7 linked regions of the Homo sapiens genome follow. The protein of the gene in region 1 purifies or fractionates together with the protein of each later gene. This does not show direct contact. Each region holds a gene or a part of one and is shown in the gene's direction. Other genes may lie near its edges.

Region 1 (3,500 bases):
TTTGAGACGGAGTCTCATGGTGTCACTCAGGCTGGAGTGCAGTGACTGGTGTGATCTCAGCTCACTGCAGCCTCGGCCTCCCGGGCTCTAGTGATTCTCCTGCCTCAGCCTCCCGAGTAGCTGGGACTACAGGCCCATGCCACCATGCCTGGCTAATTTTTTATATTTTTAGTAGAGACGGGGTTTCACTGTATTGGCCAGGCTGGTCTCAAACTCCTGACCTCAAGTGATCCACCTGCCTTGGCCTCCCATAATGCTAGGAATACAGGCGTGAGCCACCGCGCCCGGCCTGATTAGTTCTGTGTATTTTCATGCATATTACAAAACACTTTGGCCGGGCATGGTGGCTCACATCTGTAATCCCAGCACTTTGGGAGGCCGAGGCGGGCGCACCACGAGGTCAGGAGTTTGAGACCAGCCTGGCCAATATGGTGAAACCCCGTCTCTACTAAAAATACAAAAATTAGCCAGGCTTGGTGGCGCTTGCCTGTAGTCCCAGCTACTTGGGAGGCTGAGGAGAAGAATCGCTTGAACCCAGGAGGCAGAGGTTGCAGTGAGCCGTGATTGTGCCACTGCACTCCAGGCTGGGCAACAGAGCGAGACTCCGTCTAAAAAAAAAAAAAACACACACTTTGAACTAGCCAGACACACCTGGCCCTTCACAAGATTAGTGCTTAGGACAAGTCTAAGTAGAAAAAGTGAGTCCATTTAAAGAAAAATATTAAGTAAAAATATATATATACAGGAGGAATATGGATATGGCAAATAACATGAAGCCAGAACCTAAGTGACTAAAATCGAGGAAGTTCTGGCCTAGCACAGAGTGAACGTATAATTAATGGGAGCTAGAGCGACCATTAGAATAATAATGGCCAGAAAACAGAACTGACTCGCTAGGTATGAGCCAGCAGTCCGAACAAGGGCCTGCTGAGCACAGTGGCTCACAGCTGTAATCCCAGTGCTTTAGGAGGCTGAGGCTGGAGGACCACTAGAGGCTAGAAATTTGAGACCAGCCTGGGCAACATAGCGAGACTCCATTTATACAAAAAATGGAAAATATGAGGCGGGCTTGGTGGCACGTGCCTGTAGTCCCCGCTACTTGGGAGGCTGAGGCGGGAGGATTGCTTGAGCCTGGGAGGTCGCGGCTGCAGTGAGCTATGATTGCACCACTGCATTCCAGCCTGGATGCTGGAGAAAGACCCTGTCTCTGAAAAAAATCAAAACAAAATGAAGGCCCATGAATAGGAATAAGGAGATAAATTCAGGTCCAAAGAAAGAAGCCTTTGTCCACAATTGGAGCTCTCCCGCACAGCGTAGGAGCCTTAGAGGCAGTGAGCTACCCATCTTTGAAAGTGTTCAAAGGTAGAGGTGTTCCCTGGGAAAAGTGGCCTAGATGGTCCCTGGGGACCTTCCCAGCCAGTAGGGTTTTCTGACCCTGCCTTCATCCTACTCCTAGCTATTTCTTGTTGCTCACATCTCCTGAGGCCCAGGACCCTGGAGGGGAAGAAGAAGCAGAGAGCGCAGCCCGGCAGCCCCTCATAAGAACCGAGGCCCCGGAGTCGAAGCCAGGTAGGAGACACAGACCCTCAGAGAGGTCACTTTCTTTCTCTCTGGGTTTGGCCTTTTCCTCTCTGCAATAGGCAAAGTTAAGAGGGGAAAGAGAGTGAGTGTACTGGTTATGGGAAAAGCCTTTGTCTATTTGAGAAATACTTGTTGAGGACGAGCACAGTGGCTCACGCCTGTAATATCCCAGCACTTTGGGAGGCTGAGGCAGGAGGACCACTTGAGCTCAGAAGTCTGAGTCCAGCCTGGGCAACAGAGCAAGACCTTGTCGCAAAAAAAAAAAAAAAAAAAAAAAAAAGAAAAGAAAGGAAGGAAGGGAGGGAGAGAAGAAGGGATATTAATTGAGTACTTACCATGTGCCAGGCATTCCAATCACAAGTGCTGAGGCCCTGCGGTGGGGATAAGCTGGGATGTTCTAGAACCAGAGAATGGCCAGTGAGACTGGGCAGGGTGGGCCAATGGCCATCTGTGGAGCTGTACAAGAGACATTGGCCGGGCGTGGTGGTTCATACCTGTAATCCCAGCACTTTGGGAGGCTGAGGCAGATGGATCATTTGAGATCAAGAGTTTGAGACCAGTCTGGCCAACATGGTAAAACCCCGTCTCTACTAAAAATAAAAAAATTAGCCAGGTGTGGTGGTGCATGCCTGTAGTCCCAGCTACTTGGGAAGCTGAGGCACGAGAATCACTTGAACCCAGGAGGCAGAGGCTGCAGTGAGCTGAGATTGCACCACTGCACTGCAGCCTGGGCAACTGAGTGAGACTCTGTCTCAAAAAATAAAAAAAATTAAAAATCAAAGAGACGTGAAGAGGTCTCACCTGGTTAGCTTTTATTTTCATCATGATAAAGTATGTATATTACTTGAAGTTTACCATTTTATTATTTTTTATCTTACTTTATTTTTTTGAGGTGGAGTTTCGCTCTTGTTGCCCAGGCTGGAGTGCAATGGCGCAATCTCAGCTCACTACAACCTCTGCCTCCTGGGTTCAAGTGATTCTCCTGCCTCAGCCACCCGAGTAGCTGGGACTACAGACACCTGCCACCACACATGGCTAATTTTTGTATTTTTAGTAGAGATGGGGTTTCTCCATGTTGGCCAGGGTGGTCTTGAACTCCTGACCTCAGGTGATCCGCCCACCTCAGTCTCCCAAGGTGCTGGGATTACAAGCATGAGCCACTGCGCCCAGCCATTTTAACCATTTTTAAGTGTCCAATCCAGTGGCATGGAAGTGAGTTCCCACTGTTGCGTGGTCTGGTTAATTCTGTCATACCGGTGCCTCTTTGCCGAGTCTTCAGTGTGAAAACTTCATCTGCCCTTCTCTCTCTGTTCCCCTGCAGGCTCCAGCTCCAGCCTCTCCCTTCGGGAAAGGTGGACAGTGTTCAAGGTTCGGATGATGGCTGGGGTATGTCCCTGTGGGGCTTGCTCACCTCCAGGCCCCCCGCTTATATCTTCTGCCTTTTCCAGGGTCTGCTGTGGTACATTGTTCCCTTGGTCGTAGTTTACTTTGCCGAGTATTTCATTAACCAGGGACTTGTAAGTGAGGGGTGCTAGGAGGGGTGTGGAGGTGGCGATTGGGGCTGGGACCCACACAGCCCCGTCCATCTCCCCTGTCTGGTATTTGTTGCAGTTTGAACTCCTCTTTTTCTGGAACACTTCCCTGAGTCACGCTCAGCAATACCGCTGGTAAGAGGAGCGAGGGCAGTGGGCTGGGAGGGCGCCGTGGTGATGCAGCTGCCCTGCCCAGTAGGCACCGGGGGGAGCGGGATGGTCCCTGGAGGAGCCTCCTCTCCTCCCCCCAACCCTAACCTCAGGTACCAGATGCTGTACCAGGCTGGCGTCTTTGCCTCCCGCTCTTCTCTCCGCTGCTGTCGCATCCGTTTCACCTGGGCCCTGGCCCTGCTGCAGGTACCAAACCCCTGCCCCTCACTTCACTCC
Region 2 (3,500 bases), on another chromosome or scaffold:
TGTAGTAATGTCTATTCTAGTCATGCACACTGGTGTTAACTTAATTTTTGTTGTTTTTTGTTTTTCAGTTCTAATCTCATTTTAGCAAAAACTTACCTTTTTAAATATCCTGTTGCATTGTAACATATACTTAGGTCCACAAATCTGAGCTCAGTGAGGATTATCCCATAGGCTTCTTTGTTTTTCGTGTCAGTCAATGCCAAATCAAAGCCCTTTGGGCTGGTGGTTTCTGTAGAACCACCCTGATTCAGTCTGAGGGCAAATAATCTCCTACACTTCAGGCTCACAGATTCATCTTTGGCTCATGCTAAGACATGTCCCGAGGTCATGTAGTTGAATGGCAGCTAAACTTATCTGAGTTGTTTAAAGTATTTTCTCCCCAGTGGCTTAGAGTTGAATTTGGATAAATCTGCTCTCTGTACAGTGTAACCACATTTGGCAGGTGCTCAATAAATGTTTGTGGAGTGAATGAGAGAGATGAAAGGAGACATCAGGATGGGTATGTCTGGTGAATGTGGCTTTCTCCTTCCTTGGAGAGCTGACCATTGACAGGTGTGCCAGTTTGTTACAGCTGTGTGACAAACAACCCAAACAACAGGCATCTTATTGTTTCTTGTGATTCTGCCTGGTTGGGCTCAACTGGATGGTTCTTCTGCTGGTATCGCTTGGGGCCTCTTGATGGCAGGTAGGGCTGGAATGTTTAATATGTCTGCATTTATGTGTGCAGCCCTTCGGCAGGGACACTGAGTTGTCTGGATCTCTCTCTCTCTCTCTGTGTGTGTGTGTGTGTGTGTGTGTGTGTGTGTGTGTGTGTCAGTCTTCCACGCTATGGCCTCTGAAGCTCAAAGCTCCTAGAATCACAGGTCTGGAAGTTGCCAGAGCTGTAACTTGCCCCACATCACTTCCACTGCAGGCCCAGATCCCAGGGGAGGGAACCTTGCAGGGGTCCAGACACTGTTGCTGTGGCCATGGGTTCCTCTTGCCTGAGCTGATGCTGAGGTTTCTCCCATGTCTCCCAGATGCTCAGTGACCTCCAGGAGTCTGTGGCCAGCTCTCGCCCCCAGGAGGTGTCAGCATACCTCACCCGCTTCTGCGACCAGTGCAAACAGGACAAGGCCTGCCGCTTCCTCGCGGCCCAGAAGGGGGCCTACCCCATCATCTTCACTGCCTGGAAGCTGGCCACTGCAGGTGACCAGGGCCTTCTGCTCCAGTCCCTCAATGCCCTGTCGGTGCTGACTGATGGACAGCCAGACCTCCTGGATGCCCAGGGCCTGCAGCTCCTAGTGGCCACGCTGACCCAGAATGCTGATGAGGCTGACCTGACCTGCTCTGGGATCCGCTGTGTGCGTCACGCTTGCCTGAAACATGAACAGAATCGGCAAGACCTGGTGAAAGCTGGCGTGCTGCCTCTGCTGACTGGTGCCATCACCCATCATGGCCACCACACTGACGTGGTCAGGGAAGCCTGCTGGGCCCTGCGTGTCATGACCTTCGATGACGACATCCGTGTGCCCTTTGGCCATGCCCACAACCATGCCAAGATGATTGTGCAGGAGAACAAAGGCTTGAAGGTGCTCATCGAAGCCACCAAAGGTAAGAGCTGGGGGCCGACACGAGCCAGCGAACAAAGTGGGCGGGTCAGATGTGACCAGAGTGAGGGTCAGGGCTCAGGACTGCTTTAGGCACGGCAGGCTCAAGGCTCCACTCGCCCCTCGGCTTAGACCTGCCTGCATGGCAGCCCTCGTGAAGAGTCTCCCCATGTTTTCTAGTGGCTCCAGGAGAATTCCAGGCCAGCACTCAGGGGCCAGGAGCAGGCCACAATCCCATCTCTGGAGCTGTCTGGGGAAGGGGCTTGCTGTGTCCAACTCCAGGGGCTGAGAGTGGGGAAGGGGGACCTCCCCAGAGGGAAATAAGAGGACTCGGGGGGGCTGGCTGGCATGCACCATGGCAGTCTCAGCTGGATGTGTACACGCTTGATCATATTCAGCCACAAATCCTTAGGCATATTCATGTGTCTGGCTCCAGGGTGACCATGGTGAGCCAGCCCTGGGAGGTCACAGTGCTGACCGTCAGACCCTAAAGCTTCTGTCTTAACCCCTACCCCCATCCCATCCACTGAACCCACCAGAAAAGTCCTGATTGACACACAGAAGGTGTTAGGAGGATGAGTTCCCCTTTCTTGCCTGCCCCGTCACTCTGGTTCTGTGGCCAGGCCTGTGTGGGGGTTCTGGCTCTGTCTGCTGAGGAGATGGGCCCACCTCAGTCTCCCTTCCACACCTCCAGCAAGGCTGAAAATGAGTCCCGACCTTCTGCAAAGTCAGGCTGCTTTTCCAGGAGGTAGCTCACATCTTTCCTGTTTTATTTATAGGAGCTCCAATCAGTTAGGTTTCTGCCAGAGACAGGATATGTATATATGAAGAGACTTTTTGGTAAGGAATGGGATCATGCAATTATGGCAAGTCTGTACTCCATAGGGCAGGCTGGAAACCCCCAGGCAGTCCCCTTTTCGGGGAAACACCTCAGTTTCCTTCTAAGGACTTCAGCTGATGGAATGAGTCCCATTCACATTGTTCAAGGTCATCTCCTCTACTTAAAGGCAACTGGGCTGGGCATGGTGGCTCATGCCTGTAATGTCAGCACTTTGGGAGGCTGAGGTAGAAGGATTGTTTGGGCCCAGGAGTTCAAGACCAGCCTGGGCAACATGATGAAACCCTGTTTCTACTAAAAATACAAAAATTGCTGGGCGTGGTGGTGGGCACCTGTAATCCCAGTTACTTGAGAGGCTGAGGCACAAGGATCTCTTGAGCCTAGGAAGGAGAAATTGTGGTGAGCCAAGATCACGCCACTGCACTCCAGCCTTGGTGACAAAGCGAGACTCTGTCTCAAAAAAATTAATAATAATAATAATAATAATAGATAGCTGATTGTGGATGGTAACCATGTGGACAGAATACCTCCACGGCAACACCTAGATTGGCATTGGGTGGAACTGCAGAGGGCTACAGGTGGTCACAGGAACTGACCGTCGCAGCCCTGTGTAGGTGCAGGATCTTCGCCCTCTTGGCGTGAGTGCCGGCACCTGCTTCCTGGTGCAGCGCCTCTGGGCTCCATCTGCGGCTCCTGTGTTCAGTTTTGGCCACGTCAGCCCAGTCCGTATGTGTCCCTCTATGGTTCTGGAGTTTCCTGTTGCACTTAGAGAAGCCATTCCTACCCCATGATCATAAAAATAGTCTTCAGATGTCTTTTTTTTTTTTTGCACTATTATAGTTTTCTTTTTTTAGGTGAGACCATGAGTTGGTATGGAATTTATTTGGGGCATGATGGAAGGAAGCGGGTTGGGGGGCACATTCTTAAGTCTTCCCAGCAGCCAGCAGGGGGCACTGCAGGCCCAGGTAGCCCCTGGTGTTCCCTGGGGCCTTCCTGGTGCCCGTGGCCACTCCAATAGGCAGAAGGGCTGGACTCTTCCAGTGGAGCAGGATCTCCACCAAAACAGAGGGCCC
Region 3 (3,500 bases), on another chromosome or scaffold:
TTGGCACTGAACCTCCAAACAGTCACTCTGGTTTTCCTAATTAACAATAAGTAAGCCGGGCGTGGTGGCTCAAGCCTGTAATCCCAGCACTTTGGGAGGCCGAGGTGGGCAGATTACCTGAGGTCGGGAGTTCGAGACCAGCCTGACCAACATGGAGAAACCCTGTCTCTACTGAAAATACAAAATTAGCCGGGCATTGTGGCGGGTGCCTGTAATCCCAGCTACTCAGGAGGCTGAGGCAGGAGAATTGCTTAAACCCGGGAGGCGGAGGTTGCAGTGAGCTGAGATCGCGCCTTGCACTCCAGCCTGGGCAACAAGAGCGAAACTCCGTCTCAAAAAAAAAACAAAACAAAAAACAGTAAGTAAATCTTTACTCTTGGACCCACCTGTATTGTATCAAAAGTGTGCCTGTGTTTCTGTATAGTCAGGGGTTGAACTGGATTTTTAGTTAGGTGGGTACACATTTGTGCAGGGAGGATTCTCCAAGGTCATTTGTTTCACAGGCTTGTTCTGAGGGCTGAATGTGGAGTGCGTATCCTGCTGTCAGTTGCTCAGTAGATGGGCTCTGCAATTATACACTGAGTCCCTTTCCCTGTCTTGGCATTAGAACTGTGCTTCAGTACTGCCGATAGTCTGCCCTGCTTGTTAATGTATTCAGAGGAGGATTTGAGTCACTTATCGATATGGACAGGTCTCCACTAAGCCAAACCCCAACGCAGCCAAGGCTGCGAGACAGCTCCCTCAGATAGCGGCCGCCGCCTCCTCGGCCTCCTGCTCCTCCAGTGTATCAAAGCATGCTGGATATGACCAGGAGGCCAAGCGAAACCTGTCTGTGTTTGGCCTCTCTGACGGGCTATCTGTCCCCAGCCCTGTATGAGAGCTGGACTCGCTGTGGTGGTTTGGGATTGTCATTTGTTCTCATGCCTGTGGTACACTGTGGCTTTGGGTCTACCACAACTGTCTTTCATGGATGTGGGTTCCTCCCACAGGTTGGGATTGCCCTGAAGCCCTTCCTGCCCCAGCTGCAGACCACTTTCACCAAAGCCCTGCAGGACTCCAACCGGGGGGTGCGCCTGAAGGCCGCAGATGCTCTGGGGAAGCTCATTTCCATCCACATTAAGGTGGACCCCCTCTTCACAGAGCTGCTCAATGGCATCCGCGCCATGGAGGACCCAGGTGTCAGGTACGGCGCTGGCAAGGGAGCACTGTGGCCTCCAGGAGGCCAGGGGTTGCTGTGGGCCGAGCCTGCGCTGGCAGGAGGGGTGGTGGTGGAGGCACCCAGGGCTTAAGGCGGTGCATTGCTTCTGCAGGGACACCATGCTGCAGGCCCTGAGGTTTGTGATTCAGGGAGCAGGGGCCAAAGTGGATGCCGTCATCCGGAAAAACATCGTCTCACTCCTGCTGAGCATGCTGGGACACGATGAGGTACGGCTGCAGGCAGGACTAGTGGCAGCACTGGACCACTGGTTTCCCTCCTCCTCCTTAGGTTGAGTTCTTCACTTTGTGTTAGAACCAGTACAGCTCAGTAGTAATAAGCATTCCTGACATTTCTATCACCCTGTATGCTTCACCAACATTTCCTCGGGTTTCAAGGGAAACGGGGCAGGTATTGTGGATATATTGGTTATTTCCGTTTGTTTGTTTGTTTTTTGGCTGAGTCTTGCTGTGTCACCCAGGCCGGAGTGAAGTGGCACAATCTCGGCTCACTGCAGCCTCCGCCTCCTATCAAGCGATTCTCCTGCCTCGGTCTCCCGAGTAGCTGGGATTACAGGTGTCCGCCACCATACCCAGCTAATACTTGTACTTTTAGTAGAGATAGGGTTTCACCATGTTGGTCAGTCTGGTCTCAAACTCCTGACCTCAGGTGATCCACCCGCCTCGGGCTCCGAAAGTGCTGGGATTAACAGGCATGAGCCACCGCGCCCGGCCGGTTATTTCTATTTTATAGATGAGGCAAGTAAGCTTTGTAGAGACCCAGACCTCTCACCTATTTGCTCTCTGATCTTAAAGAAGTCACTTTCTCTGTCTGCCTCTCATTTCCACTTTTGTAAAATGAAGAGGTTTATTTATTGTTTTGTGAAACATTTGCCGAGCTAAAGGGCCTATCCCAGAGGTGCATAGACCTCGTGGTCACAGACCTCAAGAAACTTAGTGTGTAGTGGGATAAATGGTCTCCAGGGTGTGTCCCGGTGGCAAGTCTTAGAGGTCTATTTTCGAGGGTGAGACTTGTCTGGGCCATACCCAGCAAGTAGTAGAGTCCAAACCAGAAGCCCTGGACTCCTGGTTCTGTCCCAGTTCCATCAGCCTCACCTAGTCTGGAAGCATCTGTCAAATATTTGGCTGCGAGCACTGTGGGGCCAGTAGGGAGTTGAGTCTATGGAGAAGAGTTTTCTGTTCCCTTTTCAGACAGCCCTCTGTTGTGGTCTAATTTACTTTGTAGGGCCAATCTAGGAGGAGAGGGCCTTTGGGCTCACATGGTTTTACACGTCATTGACACACACACACACCCACACACACTCCTCCTGCCCACACCTGCAACACACACACTTGCTGCTGCACTTCCCATGGCTCCAAAGGCCTAGTTCTGGTCCCCAGGCGCCAGCTGTCGGACTCCAGCCCCAGCCTTCTCTGTGGGGACAGACAGGAAAGTCTGCTGTCTTGGTCACAGTCTTTCAGGGCTTCTACAGAGTCATGTGTACAGTGCAAGCAAAAGTTAGTATTGAAACATATTTGCATTTTACCACAGTGCAGCTTAAAATAGATGAAGTTGGAGAGAGTCGGTGTCAGAGCCAGCTTTAGCTTGGCACCTGGGCTTCTGCTTCGAGCTCAGAGGCCCAAACTGCTGGCAGTCCATTCTCTTACCCTCTGAACCTCCACTCAGATTGAAGGTGGCAGTTCAGGGTGCCAGCCTGGCATTAGCTTTTTGGGTTATTGAGTCCCTGGTTGGTGGTTTGTTTTGGGGACATGTTGAGTTGGCACCTGTAATAAGGAACATAACTTAAAATCCTCTCTTGGTATTCCATAGTTAGCTGGCCAGGGAGGAGCACGGAGCCGCTCGCGTACCTGGCTCTGATTTGAACAGGAAGTGCTTGCCTTTCCTTATCTTCCTTGGCTTGATTAGTGGCTTTAGTTTGACTTCCTAGGATGAACCCAAGTAATTTCGGTGGCAGTGGGGCACTCATGCAGTAGGGAGATAGCAGGAGTCATTCTGGCCACAAGATGACACAAACTCTGTGGGAGAAAGGAGCTCAGAGTGGCCGTCTCTAGCCGGCTTCCCTGGTGGCTGGGGGCAGGTGCCTCCCCTCCTGCCCCTCCCGCCCCTCCCTGCCTCACAGGGCTGTTGATAGTAATTGAGATAATAAATATGAAACATTCAGCCTTCCTAAGAAGAAAGATGCTATGTAAATACAGTTATTACTGCTATTACAAGGATGATTACCATATGCATACACACTGGGGTTTTCTATAATTAAGTGAAGTGCTGGCTGTGTAATGTTTAA
Region 4 (3,500 bases), on another chromosome or scaffold:
GAGAAACCGAGGCCTTAAAGAAGGAACATGTCTGATGGCTTGCCCTGCCATAGAACAGTTGAGTGTTTTATTAGTAGGAGCCTTCTATAAAGACTGGTTTATGTCTTAACTGGTACCTGTGCATTGTTTATGTATCTTTTCTCTTTCAATCAGAGTCCAAGTTTGTCTCAAAACTTTTTTTACAGTTTGTTTGAATTAAACCCAAAGAAGTTCTGTACATCACAATTGGTTCATGTTTCTTAGGTTTGTTTAAATCTATCAAGAGACTATAGATTTAGACACTCCTCCCTTTCCCCCTCTTCTAGTTGCTGAGGAAACTCTAGTCATTTGTCCTATGGTTATGCACAGTTTAGATTTTGCTGACTGCATAACTGTGTGATATTTAACATGTTCCTTTGTCCCGTCTATTTCCTGTGAATGAGTAGTTGGTTGATCAGATTCAAATTAGGGATGAGGGAGCAAAATACTTCAGTAGGTGAATAGAACATTCGTGAATATCTGGTGTCTATTATAGATGTTAACAGCCATTAATTACCATTGCCTAGATCCATTATTTCATTAGCGTAGCAAAATTATAATATTTTATTAGCTCAACTCTAAAAAGCTTTCCCTCATCATCAGTTTGGATATCCCAAGGTATAGTTTGTATAGGAAAGGCAGGATACATACTTGATTCTTCTTTCCCTTTATTTACCAATTTTCAAAATAATAAATTGGTCCCCCAAATCCTCCAAAGGCAACAAATAAAGGATTTGAATTTTTAAGGCTCATTATGAGATCATAGGTTCAAACACACTCGATAATGTTTCGGTCCGTTGTGATGATGGTGTTAGTGATTTGCTCAGATTGTCCCATCTTTAGTCAGTGGGCATCTCCTGAAATTGGCTCTAGTGACTTTTTGGCAGGGCCCTAATTACCTTTGATAGTTTCCTTACTTTCTAGTATGACAAGATGTTCCGAGCTCATCTTGTGCATTTCTTGCCTCAGGCCTAAAATCAGGCTTTTACTCTAGGAATCCTAATTCCTTTTGGTAAAAAAGTTTCTAGTTTTAATCAAATGTGTCTTCCTCAAATTCTCTTCACATTCCACGTCCCTTATTTCAAAATACCTTATGTGTTATATAGGTTGTTATGAGCAAGTGAAACAAATTTGAATTTTATTGTCTTTAAATTCACCCAAGAATCTAAACCTGTATACATGTAACAGGTCTCTTTTCCCTGGGTAAGGAATGTTGGTTATGCATTTAGAACACATTTCTTTGGCTGTAGGGGTTGATTTTACCTGTTGAGGAATGCTAGTGAAAGGAAGAATTGGGAAAAAAAAAAGAATTGGGGAGAGTTGAATAAAAGGATTGAGAGAATATAAGGGTAAATAAATTTGTACCTGATGGCAGCTGTTTCTGACAAAATTCCAAGCAGTAACAGAGAAATGTCTCAAAAGAGGAAACAAGGAAACAATGTGTTTACCTTTAACAAGGTTAAGTTCAGATCCACTTGTTGCTATAAACCTTTTGTGAGTAATCCAGCCTCACGCATACACCCCAAAATTTCTTTCCTATCCTAAGGTTGACAGAGTCTGGCCTCTCGATGGTAGATTGGCATTTAATAAAGGAGATGAAGCCACCTACAAGCCAAGAGGAATGGGAAGCAGAATTCCAAAGATACCAGCAATTTCCAGAATTTAAAATGTAAGTATTAGAGAAAATTAGGTAAACATCCCAGTAGGCCCATTTGATCTTTTGGACTTAAACCCTTCAGAATGGTTAGATTATTTCATGAACTTCGGTTCAGTTATGTTTAGTCAGCTTGTCTTCTAAGCCCCCAAATCCAAAGTCATCCTGAGGTCGTTGATGAGGAAGAGGGCAGACCTACCAAGTTGCAGGACTGAGAAAGAAAGGTTTTGCATTCCGTAAGAAAATAAAAATCAGAAGGATGTTTCCTCCTCCTCCTTTTTTGACTTTCCATTTCACCCAGCTTGAATCATGATATGACACTGACAGAATTCAAGTTCATCTGGTACATGGAGTACTCACACCGAATGTGGGGTCGCCTTGTAGGCCTTGTGTACATCCTGCCTGCTGCCTACTTTTGGAGAAAGGGCTGGCTCAGCCGTGGCATGAAAGGACGTGTTCTTGCCCTCTGTGGCCTCGTCTGCTTCCAGGTAAGATTTATTCAAGGTTGAGAAACCAGAAATGCTCCCAGGAGCTTCCTAGTTGGCATTGTTTTTTTTTTTTTTTTTTTGAGACGGAGTCTCGCTGTGTCGCCCAGGCTGGAGTGCAGTGGCGCGTGATCTCGGCTCACTGCAAGCTCCGCCTCCCAGGTTCATACCATTCTCCTGCCTCAGCCTCTCGGTAGCTGGGACTGCAGGCACCTGCCACTATGCCTGGCTAATTTTTTGTATTTTTAGTAGAGACGGGGTTTCACCATGTTAGCCAGGATGGTCTCGATCTCCTGACCTCGTGATCTGCCTGCCTTGGCCTCCCAAAGTGCTGGGATTACAGGTGTGAGCCACTGCGCCCGGCCCCTAGTTGGCATTCTTTTTAAGGAAATAATCTCTGAGGCACTTTAATAGAATAGGTAAGAGCATGCATTTTAGTGTCACAGGCCTAGCTTCAAGCCCCAGCTCTGACACTTAGGGTAAATTACCTAACCTCTGAAAGCTATGATTTCTTTACCTGTAAATGGGGATAATAACAGTGCCACCATGTACAGTCGTGTAAATATTAAATGAGATAATCCATATTTAAAGTACTTAGCTTAGTGCCTGGAATCAGTAAAGCACTCAGTAGTATATTTTCATGTGCTGCAAGATGTAGTTTGTTTCCCATCATGGGTGTCTCCCTAGGTTCTTGTCTCTCCTCTTTTTCTAACTTGTCTGCTATAGGAAAGAGGGATCCCTGTGCTAGAATGCCACAGAAGCATACAGGAAAATTCCAAAAGAGAGAAACACTTTGTGGGATGAAGGATTGTAGAATACCCATGTAGCTGAGAGATATTCAGATATAAATGGCAATTAAAATCACGTAAGTTGAGCGCCTCTTAAGGAAAGACTCCCACAGTTAACAGGTTAGTACTGCTAGAATGATGAAAAAAAAAAAGTTGGGTGAAACTGAGCAACAAATTAAAAGAGAAGACACATAGGAGTATTTGGGTCAAGGTTTAGAGATCCTAAAGGAGATTATCAGGGCATCAAAGAAACATCAAAATTTAATCAGGAGGAAGCTAATTGGTTAATTTAACTCAGAAGTGGTAAGAAAATGAGTCAGTTAGAAGGGATTAAGGCCGGGTGCAGTGGCTCACACCTGTAATCCCAACACTTTCGGAAGCCAAGGTGGGGGATCAGGAGTTCCAGACCAGCCTGGCCAACATGGTAAAACCCTGTCTCTACCTAAAATACCAAAATTAGCTGGGCATGCTGGCGTGGGCCTGTAGTCCCAGCTATTTCGGAGGCTGAGGCAGAAGAATTGATTGAACCGGGGAGGCGGAGGTTGCAGCGAGCTG
Region 5 (3,500 bases), on another chromosome or scaffold:
CAGCCTCCTGAGTAGCTGGGATTACAGGTTCCCGCCACCATGCCCAGCTAGTTTTTGAATTCTTAGTAGAGACCAGGTTTCACCATGTTGGCCAAGCTGGTCTCGAACTCCTGACCTCAGGTGATCCACCCGCCTTGGCCTCCCAGATTGCTGGGATTACAGGCATGAGCTACCGCACCTGGCAATAAATTGCTTTTGATTTTTTTTATTTTGCTTTTTCCTGGAGTATATTAAAGCAGTCTTTGACATAGTGTTTCACACATTAAAAAGTCAGCATTTTAGCATATATCTCTGAAAGATAAGTGCTATTCCAGTGACAATGCCAATATCACACCTAATAAAATTAATAATTTATTTGTATCTAATTCATGTTTAAATTTCTCTAGTTTCAGAAATGTTTCGTTTATGATTATGTTGTTCAAATCAGGATCCAGACAGGATCCACATATCCGGTTTGATTTTTGGTTGTTTTACTCTCTCAAGTCTGTAGCTGTTACCACTGTAACTTTTTCTCTTCCCTCCATTTATTTGGTGAAGAAACCAGGTCATTACAGAATTTCCCAACATTCTGGATTTGTTAGGTTGCTTCTTTATGTCATTTAATTAGCTTCTCTATACGCTGCATTTTCTGTAGAGTGGGTTAGATCTGTAGTGAGGCTATGCAGTAGACCTTTCTGTGATAGAAATTTTTCATACCTGTGCTATCCGTTACAGTAGCCACTAGCTATTGAATACTTCGATGGTGACTAGTGAGGCTGAGAAACTCTGTTTTGCTTTGTTGTTGTTGTTGTTTTTGTTTTTGTTTGTTTGTTTTTTGAGATGGAGTTTCATTCTTTTTGCCAAGGTTGGTGTGATCTCAGCTCCCCACAACCTCTGCCTCCCAAGTTCAAGCGATTCTCCTGCCTCAGCCTCCTGAGTAGCTGGGATTACAGGCATGTGCCACCACGCCCGGCTAATTTTGTATTTTTAGTAGAGACGGGGTTTCTCCGTGTTGGTCAGGCAGGTCTCGAACTCCCGACCTCAGGTGATCCACCCGCCTCAGCCTCCCAAAATGCTGGGATTACAGGCGTGAGCCACTGCGCCTGGCGGAAACTATGTTTTAATTTTAATTTAAATTAAATTTCAATGACCATATGTGGCTAGTGGCCTACCATATTGGACGGCACAGATCCAGAGGGTTGGTCAGATCCATGTCCAGTTTCTTTCACAAGAATACTTAAATGATATAGCGGCCTTCCTGTTACATCGTTTTAGGAGGTATAGAATGTCTTTCTGGCGATGCTAAAATTAGTAATTGATTTAGATTTTGAAAGATTAATCCATCTGTTATAAAGATCCACATTGTCCTTTCATTTAATGGTTCTAACAGCCATTGTCATATGATTATTGCCTAGGTCTATTATTTTGAGGTTTTTTTTATGTATTGAATTTATGATCAGTTACAGTCATCATTCTTTTTTGATGTTCACATTGTGCCATCTGTAGCCATTAGGAATTACTAAGTTGGTTCCTGTATTTTTTAATTCCTTCCCCCATTTATCTTTGATAGTTTCTTGTTTTCTGGAATAGTAAGACGTCCCAGGCTCATGTATACTTCCTGCGTCATGCCTGGAATCAGCCATGTTTCTAAGGAACCGTGATCCTTTTAATAGATAATACTATTTGGAAGCAACAATTTGGATGCTGACATGTTCATTCCTACTGGTTGTCATTGTTTCTGGGTCTTTTCAGTAGGTAGTGCTAGGTAAATCATGAATTAATGGTGATATTTCAAATTTATAAATACAGGCTAATTTTGGGTTATGTTATACTTGTATCATTTTTATCTTATGCTGAATATCTTGGTTCTTCAAATGATGTTGTTACTTATGTAAGTATCACAACATATATGTGTTTCTAAATAATACAGTATTACTACTAACAATAAGACTGTTAAATGCAATTTGGGCTTTTGTTTTCCTTGTCTTTAGGACATATCCCACTAGAATGTAATGTCAAAACACTGTGCTTAAAGTCACTTGAAAGAATTTTTTTGTGTCATACAGCCACCAACTTAATAGTTAGGTTTTTTTGTTCTCTAATGCTAGGATTGCTTTTTCTTTTATTATTTTTTAATTGTGTTGAGAGTATAATGTAGTTTTATGTAGGCAAAATAAGGTAGAGTCAGAATTTTGGCTTCTGTCCTTTTCCCTTCCATCTACAGATAAGCATTTTTATTGTTTTGATTTATATTTTGTTTCTTTTTAAAAATATAAGTAAATATATAGATTTTTATATGCTCCCCTTTTACATAAAATGCAGCCTGCTTTGTACATTTCCATTTTTAACCTAAACCTAGAGATCACTCCATATCGGAACGTAGCCATCTTCCTCATTGCTTTGTACAACTGCATTTTATGTGTTGCATTTTATGGATGTACTGTAATTTATTTAACCACTCTCCATTTGGTGAATATTTGAGTTGTTTTCAGCTGTATGTTGCTATGAATAATGCCAGGATGAACCATGGAGCAGCATTTTGCATGTGTCACTGCATATTTTTTGCCAGTTTATCTTGGGGAAGCGTACCAGTAAAATTGCTAGGTAATTTCACCATTACATTTCTCTGCATATGAGTTGAAGCATTTTGCATTCCCACCAGCAGTGTTTGAAAGTACTGTTCTCAAATGGAGGAATATGAGGCTTTTTTGTTTTGTTTTGTTTTTTAATAAAGTTAGTACGAGTAACCATATTGGTCATGTTTTACTTAAATTGATAGGCCTTCAAGATGGCTTTTAGTTATCTCAGGAGCTTTAGAAATTATCTATTCCCAGACCTGGAGAGATTCTGATTTAATTGGTTATGGTAGTTGGGGGCATTTGCTTTTTTTTTTTTTTTTAAAGCTCTCCTTGATGGTACTGTGCCACAAGGATTGAGAATCTCAGATTATAAAACTACCTTTCCGTCTATTCAAATAGTTGGTAATTTGACTATTAAAAACCACTTACTCTGGCCAGGTGCAGTGGCTCACACCTGTAATCCCCGCACTTTGGGAGGCCCAGGTGGGTGGATCACCTGAGGTCAGGAGACCAGCCTGGCCAACATGGCAAAACCCTGTCTCTACTGAAAATACAAAAAAATCAGCCAAGTGTGCTGGTGCGTGCCTGTAATCCCAGCTACTCAGGAGGGTGAGGCAGGAGAATCACTTGAACCTCGCAGGTGGAGGTTGCGGTGAGTGGAGATTGCACCACTGTACTCCAGCCTGGGCAACAGAGCGAGATTCTGTCTCAAAAAAATAAATAAAATAAAAATTAAAAAGCAGTTACTCTGTGTATGTCTGTAATTTGTTTACAAGTTTCTCTTTTGACAATAATTTTGCATTCAGCAAATACTTCCTAATTGATAGGATGAGGAACCCAGAGATTCAGATTGTGACTTAAAACTCTTATAATATCAATTCCAAATATAGATAAATACAAAACCATGATTTATGAGACTATGTCTGTAACTTGTGGGGTTTT
Region 6 (2,689 bases), on another chromosome or scaffold:
CTAAAACATTAAAATATATGAATATGACCAAGCCTTCATGGAGCTTGTGTTCTAGAAATGGATACTGCCCAGTGATTGGATTCAGTTTTCTGTACCGTTTTGCCTCCCTCCTGCCACTCTTCACACATTTCCAACATTTGAACCATCCTGAGCTATGCAGTTCCCTGAAAAACATCATGCTCTTCTGTGGCTCCTTTTCTTGGCTCCTGCTGTTCCCTTATTTGTTTACAATTAGGGAAATTCTTGCACTTCATTTAAGACTTAGCTCAAACGCTGTTTCGTCTTTGAACCCTCCACTAGGCCATGTTAACTGCCTTGATTTTAAACCATCGTGGAAATAAATATACTTTCTAGAAAAGAATTTACATTTCTTAGCTGGAAAAACATAACCCAACTTGGAATTCCTGAGTATGCATCTCTTGTCCCCACCCCTTGATCTGGGGGTTCTCTAGACTAGCTCTATGGTTTAGCTGCATGAAGAGTTAACTTGTGGCACCACCAAGTGGTTCAGTCAGGCAGTGCAACTTAATTCTCCTACAAGATCAAAGTAGTCCAATTTATACCATGTTACATACGAAGGGAGGGAAGAAGATGGCAAAAAGGATGGACGAAAGGAACAAAAAATTATAACGCAGTTGAGAGGTATAATGATTAGACCATCTCTACCTCTAGAAGCTCAAAATCTTACAATACCTTTACCAGGCTTGTGATCTATATTTGGGTTTTTTTTTTTAATCTTCACTATTTTGTGACCTTTAAACCTAATGCATAGAAATGAGAAATGGTTTGCTTATGTTCCTTCATTATGTGAGATCAGAGTATTTACATATACTCTTTCTTTCCTTACTGCTCAACTTTACTCTGGGAAATAACCTTTTCTTTACTGACCCATTGTGAGAGCCTCACTGAACTCTGCATTTCCTACTCAGTCTGAGTCGGAGATCTCACCCTAGTGTGTGCTCTCATAGACTATATCCTTGTGGCAAAATGGTCCTTAAAAGATGTGACAAAAAATTTTTTTTTCTAAGTGAGGGATAAATATATAGTGATAATCCCAATAAACAAATTCTCAGAAATCAAAAGTTACCTAATCAAAGTTGGCTCAAATATTGAAGTACTTCATACTTAGTATGAGTCTGTGGCTGCAGCAACAAGGAAAGAGGAAGATAGAGAGTGACAGCACTCCATCTGGGGTTCTTGGTTCTAATGAAGAGGCTGAGGTTTCATCTAACCTGTCAAGGAGAGTGGGTTGCATTCCTTGACTTAGACTTCGGAGTGGGAAAAATGCAAAGCACACACGTACATAAAAACCCAGAGACGGCCGGGCGCGGTGGCTCACGCCTGTAATCCCAGCACTTTGGAGGCCGAGGTGGGTGCATCACAAGGTCAGGAGATCGAGACCATCCTGGCTAACATGGTGAAACCCTGTCTCTACTAAAAATACAAAAAATTAGCCAGGCGTGGTGGCGGGCGCCTGTAGTCCCAGCTACTGGGGAGGCTGAGGCAGGAGAATGGTGTGAACCCAGGAGGCGGAACTTGTGGTGAGCAGAGATCGCGCCACTGCACTCCAGCTTGGGGACTCTCGCTGAGACTCTGTCTCAAAAAAAAAAAAAAAAAAAAAAAAAAACCAGAGACATGGGACCACTCCTTCTAGGTCTCAGCAGGACGGAAATCCATAGAATGGAACAGATCTCAATTTGATTGAAATTTTAAGATTTTGACCACCATGTGTTAGAACCATTCCTTTTCTTTAATGGAAGTGTCATTGGGCCAAGCGTGGTAGCTCACACCTGTCATCCCGACACTTGGGGAGGCTGAAGTGGGAGGATCACATGAGCCCAGAAGTTTGAGACCAGCCTGGGCAGCATGTTGAAACCTTGTCTCTACAAAAAAAATTTTAAATTAGCTGGGCATGGTGGTGCACACCTGTGGTTCCAACTACTCAGAAGGCTGAGACAGGAGGATCCCTTGAGCCCAAGAGCTCAAGGCTGCAGTGAGCTATGATCGTGCCACCGCACTCCAGCCTAAGCAACAAGCAAAACCCTGCCTCAAAAAAAAAAGAAGAAAAAGAAAAAAAGAAGTATCATTGCAGTGATACTTCACACATGTGAGATAAACAATACATTCACTCTTTGTTGAACTACCATGCCCAGGTTATTTCAAACTACAGAAGGACCTCTTGTATCATGACTCAGGACTTGTTACAATAGGGTTTCCTTATACTCTGTGTTGAATCACATCCAAAATGCAGCAAGCTTAAGCAATAAAGAACCTAACATTATTGAAGTTCCTCTAAAGGTCATGTCCAGATTTGTCACCCTACACCCATCCAGTCAGGTGTCTTTTAGTTACCCAAACAGTTTCCATATTGTTAGACTGTGTTTCTTCTAAAAAAGAAAAAAAGGGAGGTGGTTCTATCTTATCAATAAAATTGTTTATAAAACTCAGAAGTAGAATGGTGAGAAACTAGGGAAGAAAAGTAGTAACGCAAGTCTGAGAAATAAGATGTCTATTTTAGAAGGATCAAAGCTGATAGAACAAGCTTAATTAGCCATAAATTATGGAGAAAGTTGGCATTATCCCATTAGAAGAATAAAGTATCAAAGATCTCCTACTTGGTGGTTCTGTCTCAATGTTGAGTTTACTAAGTGTGAAAAGTATCCTATCCTGAATCTGTGCTCTCTGGATT
Region 7 (3,500 bases), on another chromosome or scaffold:
TTATTGTATTAAACAATATAGTGTAACAATGATTTACTCCTCATTTAAATTGTAATTTGTCTTATAAGTAATCTAGAAATGATTTAAAATATTTGGGAAGATATGTGTAGGTTATATGCAAATGCTATGCCACTTTATATCAGGGAATTGAGTATCCTTGGGTTTTGGTATCTGTGGGAGGTTCTGGAACCAATTTCTCACAAATATGGAGGGAGGAGTGCATAACAAATTTACTATTGTAACCATTTTAAAGTGTACCATTCAGTAGTGTTAAGTACATTCACAGTGTTGTGCAGCTAATCCCCAGAACTCTTTTCATCTTGGAAAGCTGAAACTCTGTACCTGTTAAACAACACCCCATTCCCTCCTTGGTAAATGCTTTCTAAGTGTGCTATTTATTTAGAATCATATTGGCCGCTTGAACTCTGTAAGCCACCACTAACTCTAAGTTGGTTAATTCTCTGCTAATAACTACAGCATCAATGTGGAGGTTTGGGGCTCCATCCTCAGAGCCAGTCTGCTTAGCTTCACATTTAGCTCCAGCACTTCACGGTTGTGTAACTTTGGGCAAGTTATTAAACTTTCATGTGCCTCAGTTTCCTCATCTCCAAAAATGAGGATAATAATTCCCATTCAGGCCAGGTGTGGTGGCTCACACCTGTAATCTCAGCACTTTGGGAAGCCAAGGTGGGAGAATCACTTGAGCCCAGAGTTCGAGAACAACTGGGCAATGTGGCAAGACCCCGTCCCTATGGATACATTTTCCTCTTAAAAATTAAATCCTAACTAATCTAAAGCTGTCTAGTTAACAAATGCCCAAACAAAATTTAAAAATTAGATGGGCATGATGGTCCGTCCTGTGATCCCAGCTATTTGGGAGGCTGAGGCAGGAAGATTGCTCGAGCCCAGGCAGTCAAGGCTGCGGTGAGCCATATTTATGCCACTACACTGCAGCCTGGGCAACAGAGAGACCTCATTTCTAAAAATAAATAAATAAATAAATAAATAAATAAATAAATAAATAAATAAAAATTTCCTCTTTAGGATTATAATAGTGTGGATAAATATTAATAAATGGTAGCAGTTGGAGGGGCAAGCAGTTCTGTTTTGATTTAAAAGAATATTGAAGAAAGCATTTACAGTTCACATAAATTTATATTTAATCAACTTTTTAAAACTTTATGCATTTGTTAACTATCAGCTTTAGATTAGTTAGGATTTTATTTTTTAAGGGGAAAATGTATCTTTTGTTTTCTTTTTATTTGGGTCTTCATTCTACAGTGGACTAAAGTGAGTAAAAATCAGTCTTTTTACTGCTTGTAAATACTAAAGGAAAAACAAGTAGTGATAATGAGATTTGGGATCATCTGTCTATTAAGTATCCCCATTTACTATAGGAATTAACTTATCTTAAACCAATGTAACTTATCTAAAACCAAAGCATGGTGTGGTGTGGTTTCCCTTCCTAGGAACAACAGAGAAGTTAAATACAGTATTTTAAAATCTTGCTGGAATTAGATTCTAATTATGTTTTCTATTTTTATTTTTTGTTACTCAAAAGACTTAATTACTATCCCATTAAAAAATAAGAAGTGCATGTTCCTGTATTCTTAGAAGGGGGTGATGTAATAGATGGTGCTGAGAAGAAAATCTTCACTTTGAAGAGATACATGACTCATAAATTGTTTATGAACAGTTCTTTTAAAAGGTGTCTGGTTCTAATTCTGTGTTCTCCACCAGCTACTTAGAATGTGTTGATTATAACACTCTGCTTTTAAAGGATGAATTAGATGAATCTTAACAGCCTAAAGGAATAGATTGATCCCGAAAATGAACACTTCAATGGGAGTCCTTTTGGTTATTTTTTTTTTTGACAGCCTAGGAATATGTCTCTATCTTCATGAAGTTCTAATCATATGTTTTTAGAATTTGCTATAAGTAACTTCCTGTGTGTATGTGTAGTCCCAGCTGCTCAGGAGGCTGAAGTAGGAGGATTGCTTGAGCCCAGGAATTTGAGGCCAGTCTGGACAACATAGTGAAACCTTGTCCCTTTAAAAAAAAAAAATAACGTCCTAAAAATTGATGTGGAGTGTAAAGATGAACCCAGAAACCATATGCATTATTTTTCTAAATAAAAAATAACGGATGAGGAATGAATCAATCTCAAAGTTATAGACTAAACACTATACCATAAATAAAATAATCATAAAAAGTAATTGGATATGTGAATAAAATAAAGTTTTCTATAAGAAAGTCTGTTATAACTGACGAAAGTCAGCTTAATATCTGAACTTCACCTTTTTTTTTTTTTTTTTTTTGAGAGGGAGTGTCGCTCTGTCACCCAGGCTGGAGTGCAGTGGTGCAATCTCGGCTCACTGCAGTCTTAGCCTCCCAGATTCAAGCAATTCTCCTGCCTCAGCCTCCTGAGTAGCTGGGACTATAGGCACGTGCCACCATACCTGGCTGATTTTTGTTTTTGTTTTTGTTTTTTTTAGTAGAGACTGAGTTTCACCACGTTGGTCAGGCTGGTCTCAAACTCCTGACCTCAAGTGATCCACCTGCCTTGGCCTCCCAAAGTGCTGAGATTACATGCGTGAACCACCATGCCCAGTCTGAATTTTATCTTATATTTAATAAGTTTTCATATAGGGAATAAAGATAACCCTTTCAGGCTGTGAAATGCCTGAAGAAGCATTTCTTTATAATATAAAGAACAGTTATGGTCAACACAGGATAATTAAAGTTTGGGGATCTATCTGGCAAAAGTTCAAGTGTTCTTTGTTTTTGTTTTTGTTTTTGTTTTGAGACGGAGTCTTGCTCTGTCACCCACGCTGGAGTGCAGTGGGGCAATCTTGGCTCACTGCAACCTCTTCCTCCCAGGTTCAAGCAATCGTCCTGCCTCAGCCTCCCAAGTAGCTGGGACTACAGGCGTGTGCCACTATGCCCAGCTAATTTTTTAGTAGAGATGGGGTTTCACCATGTTGGCCAGGCTGGTCACGAACTCCTGACCTCAGGTGATCTGCCCACCTCGGCCTCCCAAAGTGCTGGGATTACAGGCGTGACTGCTGAATGTGCATGTATAAGCAGTATTTATTTATGTAAGATATAACCTTGCATGTGGCTAATCAGAATTTTTAATGCCTAGTCATTTGTTCTAGTATCACACATTATATATTTCCTCATGTAGAATCATTAGTCTACCAAAAGATGGCAGTTTTGTTCCTCACAAGTTTCTGTTGTAATCTAAAAATAAATGATTATGGTAGCTTTTTTATTACTGTACCTAACACTTTTTACCCTCTACTAGAATACAAAGTTTTTATATACAAGAAAAAAAAAGAGTGTTGAAGTTTTATGAAACTGACCATCTTTTTTGTTATTTTTTTAGGAATTTGCCATTTGTAAAAAACAGTCTTTCTGTTTTTGGCTTCTTCGATTTAATGTGAGCTATTCTTATTTTGTGTTCTTCAAATGGCCGTGAAATGTGAACCAGAAAAAGC

The links.
Region 2: the proteins of CLN3 (region 1) and ARMC6 purify together in Homo sapiens (affinity purification with mass spectrometry; 2 studies listed by BioGRID and IntAct, with this or other methods). This does not show direct contact.
Region 3: the proteins of CLN3 (region 1) and GCN1 purify together in Homo sapiens (affinity purification with mass spectrometry; 2 studies listed by BioGRID and IntAct, with this or other methods). This does not show direct contact.
Region 4: the proteins of CLN3 (region 1) and COX15 purify together in Homo sapiens (affinity purification with mass spectrometry; 2 studies listed by BioGRID and IntAct, with this or other methods). This does not show direct contact.
Region 5: the proteins of CLN3 (region 1) and TMPO purify together in Homo sapiens (affinity purification with mass spectrometry, with the first as the bait; one large-scale study listed by BioGRID). This does not show direct contact.
Region 6: the proteins of CLN3 (region 1) and HSD17B12 purify together in Homo sapiens (affinity purification with mass spectrometry; 2 studies listed by BioGRID and IntAct, with this or other methods). This does not show direct contact.
Region 7: the proteins of CLN3 (region 1) and RCN2 purify together in Homo sapiens (affinity purification with mass spectrometry, with the first as the bait; one large-scale study listed by BioGRID). This does not show direct contact.

The regions. Positions count from the first base shown.
Region 1 is NC_000016.10:28,482,075-28,485,574, reverse strand, and holds part of CLN3 (battenin), read left to right. Parts: intron 1-1,456; coding exon 1,457-1,569; intron 1,570-2,902; coding exon 2,903-2,949; intron 2,950-3,029; coding exon 3,030-3,098; intron 3,099-3,192; coding exon 3,193-3,248; intron 3,249-3,376; coding exon 3,377-3,470; intron 3,471-3,500.
Region 2 is NC_000019.10:19,050,603-19,054,102, forward strand, and holds part of ARMC6 (armadillo repeat-containing protein 6), read left to right. Parts: intron 1-1,019; coding exon 1,020-1,593; intron 1,594-3,500.
Region 3 is NC_000012.12:120,132,216-120,135,715, reverse strand, and holds part of GCN1 (stalled ribosome sensor GCN1), read left to right. Parts: intron 1-989; coding exon 990-1,183; intron 1,184-1,310; coding exon 1,311-1,425; intron 1,426-3,500. UniProt on the Homo sapiens protein: Ribosome collision sensor that plays a key role in the RNF14-RNF25 translation quality control pathway, a pathway that takes place when a ribosome has stalled during translation, and which promotes ubiquitination and degradation of translation factors on stalled ribosomes.
Region 4 is NC_000010.11:99,725,628-99,729,127, reverse strand, and holds part of COX15 (heme A synthase COX15), read left to right. Parts: intron 1-1,564; coding exon 1,565-1,687; intron 1,688-1,973; coding exon 1,974-2,160; intron 2,161-3,500. UniProt on the Homo sapiens protein: Catalyzes the second reaction in the biosynthesis of heme A, a prosthetic group of mitochondrial cytochrome c oxidase (CcO). Heme A is synthesized from heme B by two sequential enzymatic reactions catalyzed by heme O synthase (HOS) and heme A synthase (HAS).
Region 5 is NC_000012.12:98,539,590-98,543,089, forward strand, and holds part of TMPO (thymopoietin), read left to right. Parts: intron 1-3,500. UniProt on the Homo sapiens protein: May help direct the assembly of the nuclear lamina and thereby help maintain the structural organization of the nuclear envelope. Possible receptor for attachment of lamin filaments to the inner nuclear membrane.
Region 6 is NC_000011.10:43,851,738-43,854,426, forward strand, and holds part of HSD17B12 (very-long-chain 3-oxoacyl-CoA reductase), read left to right. Parts: intron 1-2,689. UniProt on the Homo sapiens protein: Catalyzes the second of the four reactions of the long-chain fatty acids elongation cycle. This endoplasmic reticulum-bound enzymatic process, allows the addition of two carbons to the chain of long- and very long-chain fatty acids/VLCFAs per cycle.
Region 7 is NC_000015.10:76,938,249-76,941,748, forward strand, and holds part of RCN2 (reticulocalbin-2 isoform a precursor), read left to right. Parts: intron 1-3,388; coding exon of another isoform or gene 3,389-3,442; intron 3,443-3,500.